Linked DNA regions of Homo sapiens. The protein of the gene in region 3 interacts with the protein of the main gene of each other region in a pairwise test. Each region holds a gene or a part of one and is shown on either strand. Other genes may lie near its edges.

What was found.
Region 1: the proteins of NMNAT1 (region 3) and KPNA1 interact in binary tests that used the Homo sapiens proteins (3 or more experiments, as listed by UniProt).
Region 2: the proteins of NMNAT1 (region 3) and RNF4 interact in binary tests that used the Homo sapiens proteins (3 or more experiments, as listed by UniProt).
Region 4: the proteins of NMNAT1 (region 3) and CCNC interact in binary tests that used the Homo sapiens proteins (3 or more experiments, as listed by UniProt).

What each region holds. Positions count from the first base shown.
Region 1 is NC_000003.12:122,462,940-122,466,439, forward strand, and holds part of KPNA1 (importin subunit alpha-5), read right to left. Parts: intron 1,103-3,500; coding exon 1,003-1,102; intron 1-1,002. UniProt on the Homo sapiens protein: Functions in nuclear protein import as an adapter protein for nuclear receptor KPNB1. Binds specifically and directly to substrates containing either a simple or bipartite NLS motif.
Region 2 is NC_000004.12:2,503,606-2,507,105, reverse strand, and holds part of RNF4 (E3 ubiquitin-protein ligase RNF4), read right to left. Parts: intron 1-3,500. UniProt on the Homo sapiens protein: E3 ubiquitin-protein ligase which binds polysumoylated chains covalently attached to proteins and mediates 'Lys-6'-, 'Lys-11'-, 'Lys-48'- and 'Lys-63'-linked polyubiquitination of those substrates and their subsequent targeting to the proteasome for degradation.
Region 3 is NC_000001.11:9,974,475-9,977,974, reverse strand, and holds part of NMNAT1 (nicotinamide/nicotinic acid mononucleotide adenylyltransferase 1), read right to left. Parts: intron 2,384-3,500; coding exon 2,200-2,383; intron 1-2,199.
Region 4 is NC_000006.12:99,555,161-99,558,660, reverse strand, and holds part of CCNC (cyclin-C), read left to right. Parts: intron 1-112; coding exon 113-164; intron 165-3,500. UniProt on the Homo sapiens protein: Component of the Mediator complex, a coactivator involved in regulated gene transcription of nearly all RNA polymerase II-dependent genes.

The DNA.
Region 1 (3,500 bases), on a different chromosome or scaffold from region 3:
CAGCCGGGTGCGGTGGCTCATGCCTGTAATCCCAGTATTTTGGGAGGCAGAGGCAGACGGATCATGATAGGATATCGAGATCATCCTGGCCAACATGGTGAAATCCTATCTCTACTAAAAATACAAAAAAGGCCGGGCGCAGTGGCTCACGCCTGTAATCCCAGCACTTTGGGAGGCCGAGGCAGGAGGATCACAAGGTCAGGAGATCGAGATCCTGGCTAACACAGTGAAACACCGTCTCTACTAAAAATACAAAAAATTAGCTGGGCACGGTGGCGAGCGCCTGTAGTCCCAACTACTTGGGAGGCTGAGGCAGGAGAATGGCGTGAACCCGGGAGGCGGCGCTTGCAGTGAGCCGAGATAGCGCCACTGTACTCCAGCCTGGGCGACAGAGTGAGACTCCATCTCAAAAAAAAAAAAAAAATACAAAAATTAGCTGGGGGTGGTGGCGTGTAACTGTAATCCCAGCTACTCGGGAGACTGAGGCAGGAAAATCGCTTGAACCAGGGAGTCGGAGGTTGCAGTGAGCCAAGATCGCGCCCAGCCTGCACTCCAGACTGGCAACAGAGCCGTCTTTAAAAAAAAAAAAAAAGGTAATCACCCTGCCCACCAGTAAATGCATTCCTAACTTTCAGTGGTAAATTGCTAACATTAAAATCAACAATCATAACTCTTTCAAGGAGTATTTTTAAAGTCACTCTATAAAAAAAAGTCAGTCTCTCAATTTGAATTAACATGATACTGACTACTATTCACTATAAAGTCTTTTATAAAATAACCCAAAAATGAAAATAATTCTGTTTTCTGATCCTGGTGAGATCCCACAAATAAATAGGAAACTTAAAATTTAGGCATGGTTCACAATTACATATATGTCTGTATTTTTATTCTTTTATTGATAAAAATACTCCAACACAAATTACCTGTGGTATGAAAAACAGACTATGGGAAAGTAATTTTGTAGAGAGATGAAAAAATATACTGAACATATTCATAGCTCACCTTTTGAAAGCAGCTTCCTGAATTTCTGTGTTGCTGAAAGCTGTTGCTCTGGGCTTTTGGAAAATATCATTTCAATCATGTCAGAAGTGATGACACCACCCTGCGATCACAAACAAAAAGAACATATAATAAATTATCACCCTTAATTCAAAGGAAAGAAAGATAACAGATATCATGGCCAAGTTATTAAGTTAATCATACTTCCCCAGAAGTTACATAAAGGTAGGACAATCTTTACATATAGAAACGTGTAAGATTATTAATAATATAATGAAGCCAAATTCTTTGTCTATCATTAAAAAGCTCACAGTAGAAAGTGATCTTACTAGTAAATAAGACAAGGAGCTTATTGCTCTTCCCCTCCTTGCTCATCACATAGCTGGCTATTCTTTCTTATCAAAATTAAATGTTAAGTTTTAAAAGATGGCTTTTCAAGACCTCCAAGCCTAAAGTAGCCACTTTATCTCTATCACAGCACCATATTTCAATCGTATGCCCCAGCCCTTATTACACTCCCAGATATTTTTCTGTGTTCCTCCAGTATACTGTAACTTCCTTGTAAGCCCAAGACCCTGTCTGTCTTACTCTATCACTAAGGGCTGGTGTACTGTAAATGCTCTGCAATACTTATTGAGTGAGTAAATAGAGTGGTCCTGTATAAATCCAGCCACTGCCAAATTCAACAGCTGACTCTTAAACTTATTTAAAATTTCTTTCTTGTTTTATTAAAACTTTCCAGTTTCCCACTACCTTCTTGCTTTATTAGAATGTTTCCATTTCCCACCATAACTCATCCCCAGTATTAGCAGTTAATTTTCTTCTCAGGGTCATTTGTCAGAAAGAAACAAAGTTCTTATTTCATGAAGGGTAGCAGTCAACAAGATGAATTGTGAAGAAAGCTGCACTAAGCTGTAAATGCTAGATGACTGGTAAGCAATACCTAAGAATCCTCATAGGGGAATATATGACGCATTCTACTCAAGAATCAGAAAAGTAACTATTTTCAAAATTGCAAGACTGATTCCTAAATCAAGGTTTCTATATGATTTGTTATGAATATGTTTGCATAAACACATTCATATATATATATACACACATTAAGCAAATATCTTTTTCTTCCCTCTCTCATCCTCTTATAGCAAGCTGTACTGACTTTACATTACACTATTTAAGTATTGTTAACTTTACATTATAATATTTAAGTCACAGGCTATCAAGGACAGGAGTGAACATCACCCAAAGATTTTGCATCCTCTTCCGCAGAAGGAGTTAGTAAAGATGTGCCTCAACTTACAATGAATGGGGTTATGCCCCACTAATCCCATCATAAGTTGAAAATATTAAGTAAAAAGTACACTTAATACACCTAACCTACCAAACTTCATTGCCTAGCCTAGCCTACCTTAAACATGCTCAGAACACATACATTAGCCTACAGCTGAACAAATGATCTAACACAAAGCCTATTTTATAATAAAGTGGTTGACTATCTCGTGTAATTTACTTAATACTGTACTGAAAATGAGAAACAGAGTGACTGTATGGGTATTCAAAATACAGTTCCTACTGATTGCATATTGCTTTCACACCACTGTAAAGTTGAAAAATCCTGACTTGAACCCTCCTAAGTCAAGAACCATCCATACATTTTTAGTTGCACAAAGGAAAGTTGTAATCTGGCTGGGTGCGGTGGCTCACGCCTGTAATCCCAACACTTTGGGAAGCCAAGGCGGGTGGATCACGAGGTCAGGAGTTCAAGACCAACCTGGCCAATATGGTGAAACCCTGTCTCTACTAAAACTACAAAAAAATTAGCTGGGGGTAGTGGCGCACGCCTGTAGTCCAAGTTGGCCTCATCCAATCAGTTGAAACCCTTAAAAGCAAAGACTAGGTTTTCTGAAGAAAAGGGATTCAACAACATCAACTCTTAACCTGAATTTATAGTGGGCCAGTGTGCCCTACAGATTTCACACTTGCCAGCTCCCAAAGACACGAGCCACTTTCTTAAACTAAATTTCTTTCTCTCATTGGTTCTGTTTCTCTGGAGAACCCTAATACAATCCATAAAACACTTTATATTCACTTAACACTCTCTTCTTAAAAAAATTGGAAAGACTGGCTTTCTGAAGGGCCTAGAAACTTTCATCACAAAATGATGGCATTGGCTATGTCTGTATGAATTCCAAAGGAAATAATACTACCCTCCCAACTCTCAAAGAAAGCTGGTTCATGTAAACTGGAGATCTATGAAATGAAATAAAAATAAAAACTACAAAATACTATGAATAGTATGCCACCATTTACCAAAAAAAAAGGTGGGGGAGAGGAGAACATTTTAATATACAAAAGTTCTCAGAAAGAATAAATAGGAATTTAGTAATACTAGTTGCCAATGGAGAAAAATACTAGGTGGCTAAGCGGAAGAAAGATTTTTCTTCATTTTTTTTAATTGTACTTTTTTTGTTACTACAAACAACAGTACCTTTTAGGAGATAATT
Region 2 (3,500 bases), on a different chromosome or scaffold from region 3:
GTGACTTATTCATACATTATAGAAACAGACCAAAAAAAGATTCCAGAAAAATCAACCTTACTAAGAGACAATCTTTGGAAATTTAAGAAAAACAGCCTAAGTAACATTTTCAATAACCTTCCCCTTAAAGAATCTCGATTCCTTAAAGAGAGTTGCCAGTCTCTTTTCTACCACTGCATTGCTTCTAGCCAGAGCAGAGACTGGCATACTGAAAATGCTCATGAAAAGTGACCCAAGGTCAGGCTCAGTGGCTCACAACTACAATCCCAGCACTTTGGGAAACCAAGGTGGGAGGATCACTTGAGCCCAGGAGTTTGAGACCACCCTGGGCAATACGGTAAGACCTTGTCTCTCCAAAAAAATATAAAAAATCAGCCAGGGATGGTGACATACCCCTATAGTCCCAGCTACTTAGGAGGCTGAGGCAGGAAGCTCAATTGAGCCCAGAAGGTACAGGCTGCAGTGAGCCGTGATGGCACCACTGCACTCCAGCCTGGGTAACAAAGTGAGACCCTGTTTCAAGGGAAAAAAAAAGAAGAAGAAGAAGAAAAAAAACAAATTTGGAGAAAGCACACAACTTGGAAAAAAAAAAAAGATTATTTGCTGTTAAAAAGCAACCAAGGAGGCCGGACATGGTGGCTCACGTCTGTAATCCTAGCACTTTGGGAGGCTGAGTCAGGTATATCACTTGAGGCCAGGAGTTCAAGACCAGCCTGGTCAACATGGCAAAACCGTCTCTCCTAAAAATACAAAAATTAGCTGGCCGTGGTGGTGTGTACCTGTAATCCCAGCTACTCAGGAGGCTGAGACATGGGAATCGCTGGCACCCTGGAGATGGAGGTTGCAGTGAGCCAAGACTGTGCCACTGCACTCCAGCGTGGGCGACAGAGCGAGACTCTGTCTCAGGGGGGAAAAAGAAAACAACAAATGGTTTGCTTTGTTCTAGTTCAATTTTTTCAACGATTTAAAAAGTTTATAGGACTCAAGGAACCAAAACTGTATCTGATGGCCTCAAGGGTTATGTTTGAAGGCTTGCTGACTTGCAGAAAACTCAAGCTGACTGTTCAAGATGTTCAGGGCAAAAACTGCCTAGCTTCCATGCGTGGGTCTTACCCATGACAAAATGTGTTGTGTGATTTAAAAATGGCAGACCACCCGGGTGGATCACTTGAGGTCAGGAGTTCGAGACCAGCCTGGACAACATGGCAAAATCCTGTCTCTACAAAAAATACAAAAATTAGCTGGGCGTGGTGGTGCATGCCTATAGTCCCAGCTACCCAGGAGGCAGAGGCTGCAGTGAGCTGAGATCACGCTACTGCATTCTAGCCTGAGTGACAGTGAGAAACCGTCTCAAAAAAAAAAAAAAAAAAAAAAAAAAAAAAGGCAGACCATGATTGAAGCTCATGTTGATGTCTAGACTACCAATGGTTAAAGAAAACCTCAGCACCAACAGGTCTAAGATGATGGAAATCATGACCCAAGGCCGGGCGCGGTGGCTCACACCTATAATCCCAGCACTTTGGGAGGCCGAGGCGGGCGGATCACGAGGTCAGGAGATCGAGACCATCCTGGCTAACATGGTGAAACCCCGTCTCTACTAAAAATACAAAAAATTAGCCGGGTGTGGTGGCGGGCACCTGTAGTCCCAGCTACTCTGGAGGCTGAGGCAGGAGAATGGTGTGAACCCAGGAGGCGGAGCTGGCAGTGAGCCAAGATCGCACCACTGTACTCCAGCTTGGGCAACAGAGCGAGACTCCATCTCAAAAAAAAAAAAAAAGAGAGATGCAGACAAATAACTTGAAAGAAGTGGTGGAGAAAATTATTCCAGACAGCACTGGAGAAGACACAGAAATGCCTGCAAATCTATTTATCCGCTCCACGATGTCTTCTCTGTGAGGAAAGTTAAAATGCTAAAAACACTCAGGTTTGCATTGGGAAAACGTAGGGAGCTTTGTGGTGAAGACAGCAGTTCTGGAAAAGCTACTGGGATGAGCTAGGTACTAAAGTGAAAAGTCCTATTTATGATGAAAAAAGTTTATATACGAAAGTTGCATAAAAAAAAGCTATGTAACAGCCAGGTGCAGCGGCTCATGCTTATAATCCCAGCACTTTGGGAGGCCAAGGCGAGTGGATCACCTGAGGTCAGGAGTTCAAGAACAGCCTGGGCAACATGGTGAAACCCCATCTCTACTAAAAATATAAAAAATTAGCCTGGCATGGTGGTGCGTGCCTGTAGTCCCAGCTACTCAATAGGCTGAGGCAGGAGAATTGCTTGAACCCGGGAGGCGGAGGTGAACTGAGTGAACTGAGATCGTGCCACTGCACTCCAGCCTGGGTGACAGAGTGAGACTCTGTCTCAAAAAAAAAAAAAAAAAAAAATACAAAAAATGAGCCGGGCATGGTGGCGGCTGCCTGTAGTCCCAGCTACTCTGGAGGCTGAGGCAGGAGAATGGCGTGAACCCAGGAGGCAGAGCTTACAGTGAGCCAAGATCACGCCACTGCACTCCAGCCTGGGTAACAGTGCAAGACTCTGTCTCAAAATAAATAAATAAATAAATAAATAAATAAATAAATAAATAAAAGCTATAAAACAAAGAAGTTTTAAACAGGCACTTCACAAAAGAGAAAAATAAACATGAAAAGGTGTTTGATCCCATTTGTAATAAAAAAGCACAAATTAAAACCACAATGAGACACCACTGGACAAGCATCAGAATGGCTAAAATTAAAAGTGGCCATGAGGATGTGGAGAACCTCAAACACTGGCATGAATGTGAACTGCTCCCTCTTTAGAAAAGTCTGGCATTTATCCAGTAAAAATCAAAGACACTCACACCTCGGGACACAGCAGTGATGCCTTTTCTAGGCTATGCAATGCCAAAAATGAAAGTTCATTTTGAGGGAAACTAATCAAATGAGATGAACAAAGTCTCTCACTGCATCTTACCGCATTTTTCATTTCCCTTCATTTTTCAGGGGCTTTGAATTCCTTCGAAAGTTGGAAGAATGTGCACACCTGTATGCAAAGTTTCCAGTCTTTTTTTCTTTTTTGAAGAAGACAGGGTCTCACTATGTTGCCCAGGCTTGCCTTGAACTCCTGAGTTCAAGTGATCCTCCTTGCTCAGCCTTCCCAGTAGCTGGGACCACAGGCACAAAGTTTAGAGGGTTCCCTGATGTTCTGACGGCTACCTCTGGATCCTGGTATCCAGGGATTCCTATATTACAGGTACAGAGCTACTGGAGCTAAAGCAGTGCACTCAAACTATTCGACAGGTCCTGGCGGAACTGGTAAGGAAGGTTACCCCGCTTCCAGAATGAATACATTTATCCATTTTATACTCTCCTGCAGGTGCAGCCTAGGGTCACCCTGAACACACGATCCATCTACAGATGCCCCTTATCCTCAGTGACTAGCATTAGAGGCCTCCCAAACAGATCTGCTCAGAGGCAGAATTCCAAACTCAAGTATATGTCTCAGTGTAAATTCATAAACTGGCACT
Region 3 (3,500 bases):
GAGACAGTTCAATAGCAGCAGAAGCGGAATTGGTTTGTTGAACTCTGACGGCAACATCGGAGGAGTGACCCTGACTTCCACTTCTCCAGCCCTTTTACTTTTTTTTGTTGTTGTTTTTTGAGACAGTCTCATTCTGCTGCCCAGGCTGGAGTGCAGTGGCACAATTTCAGTTCACCGTAACCTCTGCCTCCCAGGCTCAGGCAATTCTCCTGCCTCAGCCTCCCTAGTAGCTGGGATTACAGGTATGGGCCCAGCTAATTTTGTATTTTTAGTAGAGACAGGGTTTCACCATGTTGGCCAGGCTTGTCTTGAACTACTGGACTCAGGTGATCTGCCGGCCTCAGCCTCCCAAAGTGCTGGGATTATAGTCATGAGCTACCACGCCCGGCCTCAGCTCTTTTAAGTACTTTTTGCCTAAGTACTTAAATCTCTTTCCACTTAAAATATCCAGAGTGGGTTTCTATTTCCTAGTCTGAACCCTAAATGATACAGTCAGTCACTGGAAAGTTCAGAACTCTAAGAACAGATACTAAACAGAAAGGCTTTTCAGAAAGCCCTTTCATTTTAAACTCAAGATAACAACAGGCCAGGCATGGTAGCTCACATTTGTAATCCCAGCACTTTGGGAGGCCTAGGTGGGAGGATTGCTTGAGGCCAGGAGTTTGAGATCAGTCAGCATAGGCAACATAGCGAGGCCCCATCTCCAACAAAAAAAAGAAAATAAAGTTTAAAAAAATCAAAATAACATTAAGAGATAATTAGGTGTCAGCCAGGTGCGGTGGCTCACCTCTGTAATCCCCGCACTTTGGGAGGCCCGAGATGGGCAGATCACCTGAGGTCAGGAGTTCAAGACCAGCCTGGCCAACAGGGTGAAACCCCAGCTCTACTAAAAATACAAAAATTAGCCGGGCGTGGTGGCAGGCGCCTGTAATCCCAGCTACTTGGGAGGCTGAGGCAGGGGAACGGCTTGAACCCGGGAGGCAGAGGTTGCAGTGAGCCAAGATCATGCCATTGCACTCCAGCTTGGGCAACAAGAGTGAACCTCTATCTCAAAAAAAAAAAGAAAAGAAAAGAAATAATTAGGTGTTGGGAGGCTGAGACAGGTGGATCACCTGAGGTCAGAAGTTCAAGACCAGCCTGGCCAACAAGGTAGAACCCCATCTCTACTAAAAATACAAAAACATTAGCGGGGCGTGGTGGCAGTCACCTGTAGTCCCAGCTACTTGGGAGGCTGAGGCAGGAGAATTGCTTGAACCCAGGAGGCAGAGGTCGCAGTGAGCCGAGAATGCACCACTGCACTCCAGCCTGGGTGACAGAGCGAGACTCCGTCTCAAAAAGAAAAAAAAAAAAGAGAAATAATTAGATGTCACTTACTCTGGTTTTTGAACCCTTAACTAGAACTGCTTCAAAGGTATGGGCACAGAGATCTGTGACTCCCTGCCCAGATGCTGTCATGGAAGCAGCACACGAATCAGGCCTGTCCATGATCAAGCAGCACTGGATGCTTCTCTTCCTTAAATTATCTGCCTGTCTCTTTTATACTTAGGAAGACTGATGATAATAACATCTTCTTGCAATTTTCCCTTTCTCATTTGGGGCACAGAAAGCCCAGGCAGGCTTCCTCTATTTTCTAACAGTGGTATCACATAGTAGCAAGCAAGCAAACATCTTTTTTTTTTTTTTTTTTTGAGATGGAGTCTCGCTCTGTCACCCAGGCTGGAGTGCAGTGGCACAATCTTGGCTCACTGTAACCTCCATCCCCGGGGTTCAAGTGTATCTCCTGCCTCAGCCTCCCAAGTAGCTGGGATTACAGGCATGCGCCACCATGCCCGGCTAATTTTTGTATTTTTAGTAGAGACGGGTTTTCACCATGTTGGCCAGGCTGGTCTCGAACTCCTGACCTCAGCTGATCCACCCGCCTCAGCCTCCCAAAGTGCTGGCATTACAGGCGTGAGCCACCGCGCCTGGCCGCAAACAACTTAAAACATAATGAAAGACACAGAGGGGCTAAGGAAGACCCATCCTTTGGTGCTGTGCTCTACAGTCTTGTAGTAACCTTCCACAGGAATGGCTTACAACACACGTGACAGTTTTGCAAATCTGTATGTTCACAGATGTAAGCAACATTGAAACATGGTAAAAACATAAGCCGCTTAGCCATTTACACAGAACTGACAAAGTTGATTACACCATAAATACCTTAGCACCTTCAGAGTCTCTTTCCACTCCTTCTGAAGACTTTCCCATGTATCAACTTCCACCCATTTAGAATTCTTGGTAGCAAGTTCTGCCATGATGACCCGGTGATAGGCAGGAATGAGTCCTTTCTTCTTGTAGGCATCACCAACAGGAGAGATGATGCCTTTGACAACTGTGTACCTTCCTAGATAAAAAGTTAGGTTTCACACTAGGTATAACAAATTAGACTTTATGCACAGGAAATATTACGATCAATATTATTTGTTTTGTTTTGTTTTTTGAGACAGAGTCTTGCTCTGTTCCCCAGGCCGCACTGGAGTGATCTCGGCTCACTGCAACCTCCGCCTCCTGGGTTGAAGCAATTCTCCTGAGTCAGACTCCTGAGTAGCTGGGATTACGGGCGCATGCCACCATGCTGGTTAATTTTTGTATTTTTAGTAGAGATGGGGTTTTTACCATGTTAGCCAAGCTGGTCTCCAACTCCTGACCTCAAGTGATCTGCCTGCCTCAGCCTCCCAAAGTGCTGGGACTACAGGCATGAGTCACCACACCTGGCCAATATTGTTTTATAATCACAGATTCTCTTTCTTTAGGGATTCCAGCTTATTAGCTGATCAATTAACTGACTGAAATTATGGTAAAATATACCCAAGCGTACAGTTCTATGATATTAACTGCAAACATGCTGTTGTGCAACCATCGCTCCTATCTATCTCCAGAATTTTCTCATCTTCCCCAACTGACACTCTGTACTTCACCTCATTCCCCTATACAGTTAAATTTCTATTGATATTGCCAAATTACTTTGTAAAAAGCCTTAATTTGTATTGTCCACCTAGATGTATGCAAAAGCCCATTTCTCAATGTCATAGGCAAATAGTGAGCTTTAGCATCCATCCATCCATCTACCTATCAGCATATTATATGATCATTTATGTAACAAAAAAATCGAGGCCAGGTGTGGTGGCTCACACCTGTTATCCCAGTGTTTTGGGAGACCAAGGCAGGAGAATCACTTGAGCCCAGGAGCTCAACACCAACATGGGCAAAACAGTGGGACCCAGTTTCTACAAAAAATTAAAAAATTAGGCCAGGCGCGGTGGCTCACTCCTGTAATCCCAGCACTTTGGGAGTTCGAGGCGGGTGGATCACGAGGTCAGGAGATCAAGACCATCCTGGCTAACACGGTGAAACCCTGTCTCTACTAAAAATACAAAAAATTAGCCAGGCATGGTGGCGGGCACCTGTAATCCCAGCTACTCCGGAGGCTGAGGCAGGAGAATGGTGTGAGCCTGGGAGGC
Region 4 (3,500 bases), on a different chromosome or scaffold from region 3:
GTAGTTAGAAGGTGAACAGATTGTAAACAGGAGCAAGGAAATCCTGTTTTGAATAGAGTTCAGATACCCTTAGATTCATTGGGTTAACATGTACCTGCTTTTCTTTCTTTAGGAATTTGGAGTAGTTTCAAATACAAGATTGATTGCTGCTGCTACTTCTGTATGTAAGTGCAAAAAGTATATCTGCTTTAAGGATGTAATTCTAAAGAAAGCTCCAGAGTACATAGATTTTTTTTTTTTTAGTTTATGAGACATATGAGATTGGTTGGCTTTATTAAATTTCCTGAGGATAACTTTATATCTAGTGTATCTGGCAAAAAAATCAAGCTAAAAGGTTTTTTTTTAAAAAGATATAAAGATATTACTTTTAATGTTAAAATGGATAGTAATTATCAATCCAAAAACATCAACTCAGTGGCTTTTAATCTTGTAAGAGTAAAGAAAAAATTCTGTTTCCGAATTTTATTGTATTTTATTGTTTTCTAATGACTATTATGTCATTCTTATGGGTAGATATTAATATCTATGTGCAAACCCGTTCCTGTGTTGTTGGGTTGTTATGAGGACCAAATGAGTTAATATAAGCTTTTAGAACAGTGCCTTGCTTAGTATGTTACTTTGCTGAGGCTGCCATAACAAAATGCCACAGAACAGGTGGCTTAAACAACAGAAGCGTATTTTCTCACAGTTTTAGAGCATGGAAATCCAAGATCAAGGTGTCTGGCTATTCTTACATGGACCTTTCTGTGAGCACACACACTCCTGGTTTGCTGTCTTCTTCATGTGAGGACAATAGTCTTACAGAATTAGGCCCCACTCTTATGTCCTCATTTAATCTTTTTTTTTTCTTTCTTTTTTTTTTTTTTTTTTTTGAGACAGAGTCTCGCTCTGTCGCCCAGGCTGGAGTGCTCACTTCAACTTCCGCCTCCTGGGTTCAAGTGATTCTCCTGCCTCAGCCTCCTGAGTACCTGGGACTACAGGCATGTGCCACCATGCCCAGCTCATTTTTGTATTTTTTAGTAGAGACGGGGTTTCACCATGTTGGCCAGACTAGTCTCAAACTCCTGATCTCGTGATCCGCTAGCCTCGGCCTCCCAACGTGCTGGGATTATAGGTGTGAGCCACCATGTCTGGCCTGTCCTCATTTAATCTTATCCCTTTAAAGACCCTCTCTCCAAATACAGTCACATTCTGAGGTACTAGGAGTTAGGGCTTCAACATACGAATTTTGGAGGGGGACATATATTGGTCCACAATACTTGGTAAACTTTAGGGGCTATCATCATCATCATCATCTTCAATGACAACAACATCATTATCACTGGAAAACACTGTGCCAATGCAGTGGCATTGGTACCAAGGTAAAATACAAGGAATTTAAGGACAAAAAAAGAAGACAGAAACATAAAAATATTAATACAGAAGGAAATAAATAGTATAAGAGAGTTACAGAGAATGCTGTGAATGTTTTGGGTGGGAAAAGATTGTTTCATGAATCCAGAAAGGATTAAGTAGAACTTGGTGAAGGAAGTTGAACTGGGGAAATGCAAGAGATAGACAGTCTAAGAACACTGAATAGTTTAGTCAAATAGGGAAAGCTCATGAGTTAGATTAACTGAATGGTGAGTAAGGAAATAGTGGGGAAAACTCCTTACCTAATTTCAGCTAATAGAGGGCCTTCGATGCTAAATGAAGGAATCTGCACTTTGTTCTATTGACAGTAATGAAAGTTAGTTATTTGAGATGGAGTCTCGCTCAGCCGCCCAGGCTGGAGTGCAGTGGCACGATCTTGGCTCACTGCAACCTCTGCCTCCCAGGTTCAAGCGATTCTCCTGCCTCATCCTCCCTGGTAGCTGGGATTACAGGTGTGTGCCACCACGCCGGGCTAATTTTTGTATTTTTAGTAGAGATGGGGTTTCAACATTTTGGCCAGGCTGGTTTTAAACTCCTCACCTCAGGCCTCCCAAAGTGCTGAGATTACAGGCGTGAGCCACTGCACCTGGCCAGTTTTATTTATTTTTACACATGAGGGTAATGCCAGCATTGTGCATTAGGAAGGTAAATCTGACCCACCTCAGCCTCCCAAAGTGCTGAGATTACAGGCGTGAGCCACTGTGCCTGGCCAGTTTTATTTATTTTCACACATGAGGGTAATGCTAGCATTGTGCATTAGGAAGGTAAATCTGACAGAATTATGTAAGATGAATTGGAGGAGAGGGCAGGTAGAATTAGACAAATTTTGAAGTTATTTACATCCCACAACATGGATGAACCTTGAGGACATTATGGTAAGTGAAATAAGCCAGTAACAAAGACAAATATTGTGTGATTACACTTACATGGAATACTTAGTCAAATTAATAAAGATAGAAAGTAGAATGGTAGGGCTGGAGGAAGGGTGGTATAGGGAGTGATTAATGGATACAGAGTTTCAGTTTTGCAAAAATTTTGTATATCTTAACACAATTTAAAAACAAAAACCTTCTGAAATACAGTAAAACTGCAAACTGTATTGAGTGCTGTCACTTACCACAGGGTGCTATGAGAAATAAAACCTAACAAGTTTAAAGTGGAAAAAATAATTTTTAAGTTGCTGAAGTCATCCCAGTGAACACTAATGAAGGCTTAAACGAATATTGGCAGCCAGCAAGAAGAACAAACAAGCCAGATTTGAGCGATAGAGTCAGCAGTTCTTATAAAAAGAAGGGATTTAAGAAGAGTCAGAAATGTGTTTTGAGGTTTTTTTGCCTGGGGGTTGGGGAGCTGAAGCTGGTACTGAAAAAGAGAATAAGTGAGTTCTGAAAAGAATTAAATTTAATCTTTGACATTCTAAGTATAAATATGTTAGTAGAACATCCTCTTAAAAATGTGAGGCCAGCAGTAGAAATTTGGAATTTGATAACATTTAAGAGTTGCACAGGCCAGGTATGGTGGTTCCTGCTTATAATCCGAACACTTTGGGAGGCTGGAGCAGGAGGATTGCTTTAGAACAGGAGTTCAAGACCAGCCTGGACAACATAGCAAGATTCCAGCTCTGCAAAAAATTAAAGAAAAACTAACTGGGCATGGTGGCACACACCTGTAGTCCTAGCTACTCAACTAGGCTGAAGTGGGAGGGTTGCCTAAGCCCAGGAGTTCAAGGCTGCAGTAAACTGTGATTATGCCACTGCACTCCAGCCTGGGCAATGGAGTAAGACTCTGTCCCTAAAAATTAAAAAAAAAAAGAGTTCCACAATGTCTTATGCTGCATAGAAAAAGATGTGAACCAAAGAAAAAAACATCTTTGAGAGAGAACATAGTGTCATTAACAATGTGGGGGTGGAGGTAGAAGCCAGATTGCAAGGAATTAAGAAGCAAGTAGGTGCTGAGAAAGGAATAGTCTAACTATATTAAAAATATATGAAACAACTTCAGTGAAGGGAATTGGGGGAAAGGTGTTGACATAAGTAGCTTTGGAAATGATTAAGAGTGTAAGAGTAAAGGCAAAAGGAACTACACAT